Regions from separate parts of the Homo sapiens genome. Here region 2 is reported to be linked to region 1. Evidence: microRNA targets listed by miRTarBase, many of them from high-throughput screens and not tested one by one. Region 1 holds a microRNA gene; the other region holds the end of a gene's coding sequence. Distances are from middle to middle.

Region 1 (3,388 bases):
CTGCCGTTTGCGGAGAATGGCTCTGCTCTTGGAGTAGGGGACGGAATAGCCTCTTCCCCTCTAGAAGAGATCAGGGACAGCTCAGATCTGGGTGGGCTCCGAGGGTGCCTGCGGTTCCGGTGCAGTGGCAATGCAAAGGGCACTCTCCCATAACCGAACATTCCTGGCTTGATGGGGTCTCGAAGCCGGGACCTGAGAAGGTGTTTCAGATGTGGGGGCACAGCTCTGACCACCTCTGACCCTGTTTCCCCAGTTTACTTCCTGGCACCAAAGACAAGCCCTCTGAAGCCACCCGTGCTCCCCTTTCCTTCATGCTAAGCCCCCACCTTGCCCAAGGCCCACCTCTTCCACCCAGGCCTCTCACCTCCTGGCCGCTCGAATCTCCTGGGTCTCCTCTCTCCCTAGGTGGGAAGCGGGACCTCGAAGTGGGCCACCCCTTCCCCGAGACTGTGTCCTGTACAAGGGGAGGGTTTCTGGAGAAGTCTGGGGTCTGGGACCCTGGCCCCGGGGGAGGAGGGCTTCTGGATGTCTTGGGGGCCGGGGAGGGAGGGGCAGACTCGGGTGGAGCTGCACTGTAGGGAGCTGACATGTCCGGCTCCTGCGCTGCACCCCCACCCCGCAGGGCTGGGAGCAAGAGGCCCACTGGACCCAAGGTCCCCAGACACCTTCGGGGCCCTGGCCCTCCTCTGTAGGTGTCTGAAGAGAGTGTCCGGACAACACCTATATAGAGAAAAAGGTCAGACAGAATTGGAAGGATTAGAGGGAACTGTCCAGAGTGTCCATGTAGACCAACACTGAGGCTCACGGAGTCGCTACCAGTCCAAGGTCACATTCAGCAGCAGAGGGAGAACTACACCTCGGCCTCTTGGTGTTATGAGGCAAGGAACTGGGGAGTTGGCAGGGGAGGTGGGTGGGCTGTGGGGAATGGAGGCGTGGCCTGGAGAGATGGGGTGGGAGCCTAGGGGGAGATGAAAGGGTGGCAGGCAGGCTGCAGCTGCTCACTTGTCCAGAACTCACCTCCTGATCCAAGCAGAGCTGAGGGAGGGACAGAAGCAGCAGCAGATACAGCCAGGGCCTGCAAACCAAAGGCCAGGGGAGGGACGTCAGACTGGAGCCAGAGGGGGTGTTGCAACACTGCCCTCCGCCCCCAGCCGGCTCCCATATCCTGACTACCAACTTCTCAGAAAGCAGAAGTTACTCATCACTTCCCCTGCCCCTCCCAGTGGTCCCCTTTCCCTCACTTCCAGACACAGAGCCATCCCAGCACCTCCCCTTTTCCTCCCCCCCAACCCGTGGCCCCTTCTCTCACCTGCCAGTCCAGTTCTCCATCGCTCCCCCTCTACTGCCCCAGGGGGAGGCAGGAGCGGACTGGTCACAAAAACTACGCAGGCATCTGGGCGTGGAGGGTGCTCTCTGCAGGGACAGAAGCCTGGTGGTTACCTCTCCAGTGTCCAGAGAGCTTGGGGCTGGGAGGACAGCTCAGAGAATATGGAGGAGGGGGTGAAACTGGTCCATCCCTTTAGGATCCTCAGGGTGGGAGCAGGGAGGATCACTGCCTTGTCCATCTGTAGAGGCTACATGGTCAGGGGCTGACCTCAGCCCTCCAACTAAGGCTCAGTCCCCACCTCTGGGCCCTGTAGGGGCTTCTTAGCTCCTCCCCAAATCCTACCTAGGGACTGTTTCTAAGCCGGCTCAGGCACACACAAAAGGCTTTTTTTTTTTTTTTGAGATGGAGATCTCACTCTGTCATCCAGGCTGGAGGGCAGTGGTGCCACCAAAGCTCATTGCAGCCTCAAACTCACAGGCTCTCCTTCCTCAGCCTCCTGAGTAGGTGGGACTACATGCGTGCACCACCACACCCAGCTAATTTTGGTATTTTTTGGTGGAGATGGGATCCAGCTAAATTGCACAGGCTGGTCTTGAACTCCAGGCCTCAAGCGCTTCTCCTGCCTTGGCCTCCCAAAGTGCTGGGATGACAGGTGTGAGCCACCGCACCCAGCCAGAGGGCTCCTTCTAAAATGGTTGTCATCTGCTCCCACTCCTGCCCTCCCAGAGGTGCCTAGAAAGTAGAGGAGGAAGGCTCCACTGAGGATGCGCCAGACACTCTCTCTGAGGACCCACCAGAAGCCCCTTCCTTGGGTCTTCCAGACACAAGACCTTCCCCAGTCATCTCTCTGTCCTACTTGCCTCCCGGCTTTCTCTTCCCTTCTTAGATAAGCTCTTTAGGGAACATCCAGGCACATCTCATACACTTTTTGGCCAAGGGATAAGCTAAATGGGTTGACGGTTTAATCTCTAGAGAAGAAGCCGGCAATGTAACACCCACTCTGGGTGCCAGCATCTGGAGTTGGTTCAGTGAGGGCTTGTTTCCTGTGCGTCTCTACCAGCTGGGGAAGCGGGAAGGAGAGGTGCAGCCGGGGCTGCCTCATGCCCCAGCCACAGGCCTCTCATTCTGAAGAGCCGGGAAGTCCATCTGAAGTTCAGCTTTGAACACTGGAGAAGTGAGGCTTGGAAGCCACCCCAGCCACCAAGCCTGACTCTCTTTGCCCCCTTCTTCTCACTTTGAGTCCTTCCCACCCCTGCTCCTCATCCCACTCTTAGTTCTGCTTTCCAGGAAAAAAAAAATCTGTTTCTGTTGGATCTGAAAGGCACCCGGGAGAGGAATCCAGGGAGCCCTCGCATTGCTGAGGTGGGCCAGCTCTGGGGCAGAAAATGACCAAGAGAAGGGTAGGAATGTGCCTGGGGGCAGACACTCAGCCCCACTGCCCTCCCTGAGACCTAGGGTTCGGAATTTGAGGGAGGGGTCAGAGTGGCTGAGCCAGAGCGGGCGCCTCAGGGATTGGGGTTGGGGTGGGGGTTGCCGATGGCCACTCCTTCCCCTGGCTGGGCCGGCCACTAAGGTCAGCAACTCCACCCTGACTGAACGGGGGAGGCCAGGATCTCCAGAGAAGGGCCCATGTTCCACCCAAGTCTTCAGGCTCTGCCTGACTCTTGTTACTCCAGCTGAGGGAAGAAGAAATGGGGTGATAGTCACTGCCTGCCCCTTCTCTGATGCCGACCCCTCTTCATGCCCTCTCTGCCTCTGCTTCTCTCTGCCACCGAGATCTCTTCTCGCAGCCCCTCTCCACGGGTCTACCCAGTACACATAATCCCATCCCGAGCTGGGTTTGGCTTTGGCAGTTCCCTGGAGAAGTGAGGGGTGGGGGTGACGTGAGCTCCCGGGGCCCGGGCCAGGCCTGGCTCCCTCTCTGGAAAAGTCCCACCCCACCCTCCCCTGCGCAGCCCGGCAGGGGCCCATGCCCCCTCCTCTGCAGAAACACACGCACATTTATGCTTCTCACCCCTTTCCATGTCCCTCATTTGGTGTCGTTCCCGGCCCAGGACGAGG
Region 2 (3,388 bases), 120 Mb from region 1:
GTACTCCCTTCGTGGTTGCCTCAGACTCTCCTTGGCCCTCATCATTCTGTCTCCTCGCTCCCTATTCTGCTTCTCCTCCTAGGTGTCCACCTGTGAAAGGCACCAAACCTTAGTTTCTCAGGCCTCCTCTGCCTCCCTCACCCACACATTGCTAAGTCCTGTCTGGTCTGTCCACCCCCAGAACTTCTCCCAGATGCATCCCTTCTCCACATTCCCACCACCCACCACCCTAGTCTAGGGTTCAGAGTGTCTCTCCCAGACAGCTGCCTCCCACTGCCACTCCTGCCCCTGCTGACCATCCTCCAGGCTGCCTTCCCTGTTGAAATGTTCCAGTGGTTCTTGAGATAAAGCCAGGTTCCTTATGCTGGCACTCAAGGCCCGTCCTATATTGCCAGGCCCCTCCTCACACCAACCTTTTCCTTCCAGTCCAATTGAGCCCCAGCTTCAGCCACACATAATGCTGGCAGTTGCCCAAATGTGTCGCCACCTCTAGGAAGCTTTCCCTGAACCCAGGATCTTTGTTGATGCTGTCTGGAATATCCCTGCATCCATTCCATTTCTAAGGACTCCCATTCATCCTTCAGTCACAGCTCAGTTGTCATTTTCCGAGGGAAGCCTTCCCTGACCCCAGGCTGGGGTGGGCTTCCAGCCTGATCATCGTCTGTGTGGGGTTCTGTCTCCATTAGACTGAAACGGGGGGTTACCTGGGGGGAACCATGGGGCTGCCTCCCAGAACCTTCTTCCCCTTCCATTGCCTCTCCTCTGGCCTTGGTTTATACAGAACACCCCCTCCCGCTTTGCTCACTGGTCTCATCTGTCCCTGGTCAAGGAAGTGTCCCTCTAAGGTTTGTGGGGATGACTCAAATGGGGCCTAGGGCTCTGTCCACCCTCCACTGATACCTTCCAGAACTGCTGCCCATTGCCTGCCCGGATCCAGGAGATTGTGGTGGAGACGCCCACCTTGGCCGCTGAGCGAGAGAGGTGAGGGCGGGATGAGGAGGTGAGGGCCTGGGGGCGTTGGGTCACCGCGTGCTGATGGCCTCTGGGCTGTGCAGGAGCCAGGAGTCACCCAACACGCCGGCACCCCCGCTCTCCATGCTGCGCATCAAGTCTGAGAATGGGGAACAGGCCTTCCTACTGATGATGCAGCCTGACAACACCATTGGGGACGTGCGAGCTCTGCTAGCGCAGGCCAGGTGGGTGCAGGGCAGGGCCAGGGCCACAGAGGGGCTCTGGTCCCACTGCCCAGCCTGATCTGCTCTGCCTGGTCCCCAGGGTCATGGATGCCTCTGCCTTTGAGATCTTCAGCACATTCCCGCCCACCCTCTACCAGGACGATACACTCACGCTGCAGGCTGCAGGCCTTGTGCCCAAAGCAGCACTGCTGCTGCGGGCACGCCGAGCCCCGAAGTCCAGCCTGAAATTCAGTCCTGGTCCCTGTCCCGGTCCCGGTCCCGGCCCCAGTCCCGGTCCCGGTCCCGGCCCCAGTCCCGGTCCCGGTCCCGGCCCCAGTCCCTGTCCTGGACCCAGTCCCAGCCCCCAATAAAGCACCCGCCCCCTCAACCCGCTGCTCCGCCAGGCTCTTGGGTGGGCCATCTCGCCAGGCACGTAGGAAAGGCCTGGGACCAGCTGGGCCAGGGAGGGGGCGGTGCCGACCCGCCCCTTGGTAACTCGAGCCCCGGCTGGCGGGCCTGGCTGCTGGGTCTTTGTCTTCTAGGTTCCTCTTTCTCCCAAGAAGGGCTAAGTGGATCCTGTGAAGGGAGGGATGCAGTGGGGGGAAGGAGCTGGCCCCAGCTGGGTTTACATTCTCAGCTGGGACAGCAGAGCCTCACTGTGTATGTGTGCAGCCAGCAGATACCTGTGCACAGGCACAGACCCACCAACTCGTGGGGACACTTCAACACCGCACAAAGCCATTTTGCCACTAGACCCATGCCCCCAAATTAGCAGAACTGCAGCTGGGTACCCACCTCCCATGATACACTCATTCTTAGCCATTGTGCTCCAACACAGGCGCATGGGATGGCCACACTCACTGACAGGCATGGAGATGTGCACTACACACCAAGGCACAAGCATGATATGGACACATGCATGTGAACTGGAGGGTGGCCCACCCAGACATCTCCAGAAACCACTGGTCCATACAGGTATTTGTGTGTCAGACATATCCAAACACATGCACTAACAAACACAGAGGTGACAGTCACAAGAGAACAGCTCAGCCACCCTTCCCACAGAGCAGTCTCAGCACAGTCACAACTACCAACCTTGCCCAGGGCAGGGACCCAGGAGGCCCAGGCCACAACCAACCAGACACAGTGCCAATGGAACAGGACATCATTTAATTGCCTCTAGGGTCCTCCTGGGAGAGGGACTGCGGGGCCTTTGGCAGAGCTCTGGCTGATGGAACCAACAGAGGTGCCCATCAGCCAGTGCCAGGCAGGATGGCGGCCCCAATGCTTGGCTGGGGGCAGCCAGCATTTGGGGCTGTTGCTTAAGACAATTTCTGAGACTAATGGGTAAGGAATGTTGCCTTTAGATGGAGGAGAGGGGACTACATTTAGAGAGGAGGGAGGAGAAGTGGCCTGCATTGGGGGAGGGACTCTAAGGTTAGGTTAGGAATGACAGGGAGTTGGTCAAAAGGTCCTTCATGGCCAGGTGAAGGCTGGGGGGAGTGTGGTGATGGAGTCCAGCAGGGGAACTCTGGACAGGCTTGACTCAAGCCAGCTTCAGGAACTCCTGCAGCGTGTTTTGTTCCACAGCCTCCACGAAGAGCTCATAGTCCTGGAGAAGGGGAGGCGAGGGGTGGTCACCTGAATGCAGGGGGCCCAAGTGCTTTGTGGCAGATATGACCCTGGCTAGAGTCCTCTTCCAACACTCCCCCCACCCCCCCGTCCCCCAGCCCATACCCCACAGTACTGGTCCCCGTTGACAATCTGGGGTGGGGTGGCCTTGGGGTTGCCTGCCAAGGCTCGCATCTCATCCCTCAGGGCGTTGTCCTGGGAGATGTCCACTAGCTGGTATTGGATGCGCTTCCCATCCAGGATTCGGGTCACCTCGCTCTGCTGGGACTTGATCTGGGGACAGAGGGTGGGTAGGGGTTAGTGGATAGGCTGGAGGATTTATGGGGGAAATGCTGGGCAGGGTGAGAGAGGCTGTGACCAGGAGCTTTTGTCCCCCCATTCCCCTCCACACTAGGGGAGGGTTCTGGCCTCTAGGAGTTGGGAGGATGAGTCAGGCTTGAGGTGGTGCAGGATGAAGAGAGGGATTATCAGCCACGGGGGAGGGGGTCAGAGTGAAGGGAAGTGGGATCAGGCTCAGGGTGGGGAGGGGAGGGGAGGGCAGGCTGCGGTCGTGGTCAGGGTCAGCCCGGTAGTGGGAGTGC

Evidence for each region. Region 1 holds the annotated microRNA hsa-miR-4257 (CCAGAGGUGGGGACUGAG, at 1,614-1,631, opposite strand). A microRNA usually pairs through its seed, bases 2 to 8, with sites in the 3' UTR of a target mRNA and lowers its output. Matches are read on the target gene's strand: a 7mer-m8 pairs with bases 2 to 8, a 7mer-A1 pairs with bases 2 to 7 and ends in A, and an 8mer does both.
Region 2: miRTarBase lists SH3BGRL3 as a target of hsa-miR-4257. Seed matches in the 3' UTR shown: 7mer-m8 at 2,417-2,423.

The regions. Positions count from the first base shown.
Region 1 is chr1:150,550,230-150,553,617 of GRCh38, reverse strand. MIR4257 (microRNA 4257) reads right to left here and starts at 1,689; the gene lies at 1,604-1,689. It overlaps ADAMTSL4 (ADAMTS like 4), which reads right to left. Exons shown (of 19, transcript NM_019032.6): 3 at 1,310-1,413; 4 at 1,018-1,075; 5 at 365-720; 6 at 1-192. The coding sequence starts at 1,329. It overlaps LOC124904417, which reads right to left and starts at 3,328. Exons shown (of 1, transcript XM_047438226.1): 1 at 2,268-3,328. The coding sequence starts at 3,328. The coding sequence ends at 2,558. All of the region lies in intron 5 of ADAMTSL4-AS2 (ADAMTSL4 antisense RNA 2), which reads left to right. RefSeq lists enhancers at 956-1,825, 2,315-3,004.
Region 2 is chr1:26,280,457-26,283,844 of GRCh38, reverse strand. It overlaps SH3BGRL3 (SH3 domain binding glutamate rich protein like 3), which reads right to left. Exons shown (of 3, transcript NM_031286.4): 2 at 2,913-3,080; 3 at 2,323-2,787. The coding sequence ends at 2,722. UBXN11 (UBX domain protein 11) reads left to right here. Exons shown (of 15, transcript NM_001389556.1): 13 at 908-981; 14 at 1,056-1,196; 15 at 1,276-1,563. The coding sequence ends at 1,546. Among named protein-coding and RNA genes, the nearest start is that of SH3BGRL3, 2.1 kb to the right of the region's middle. RefSeq lists enhancers at 2,464-3,350, 3,351-3,388.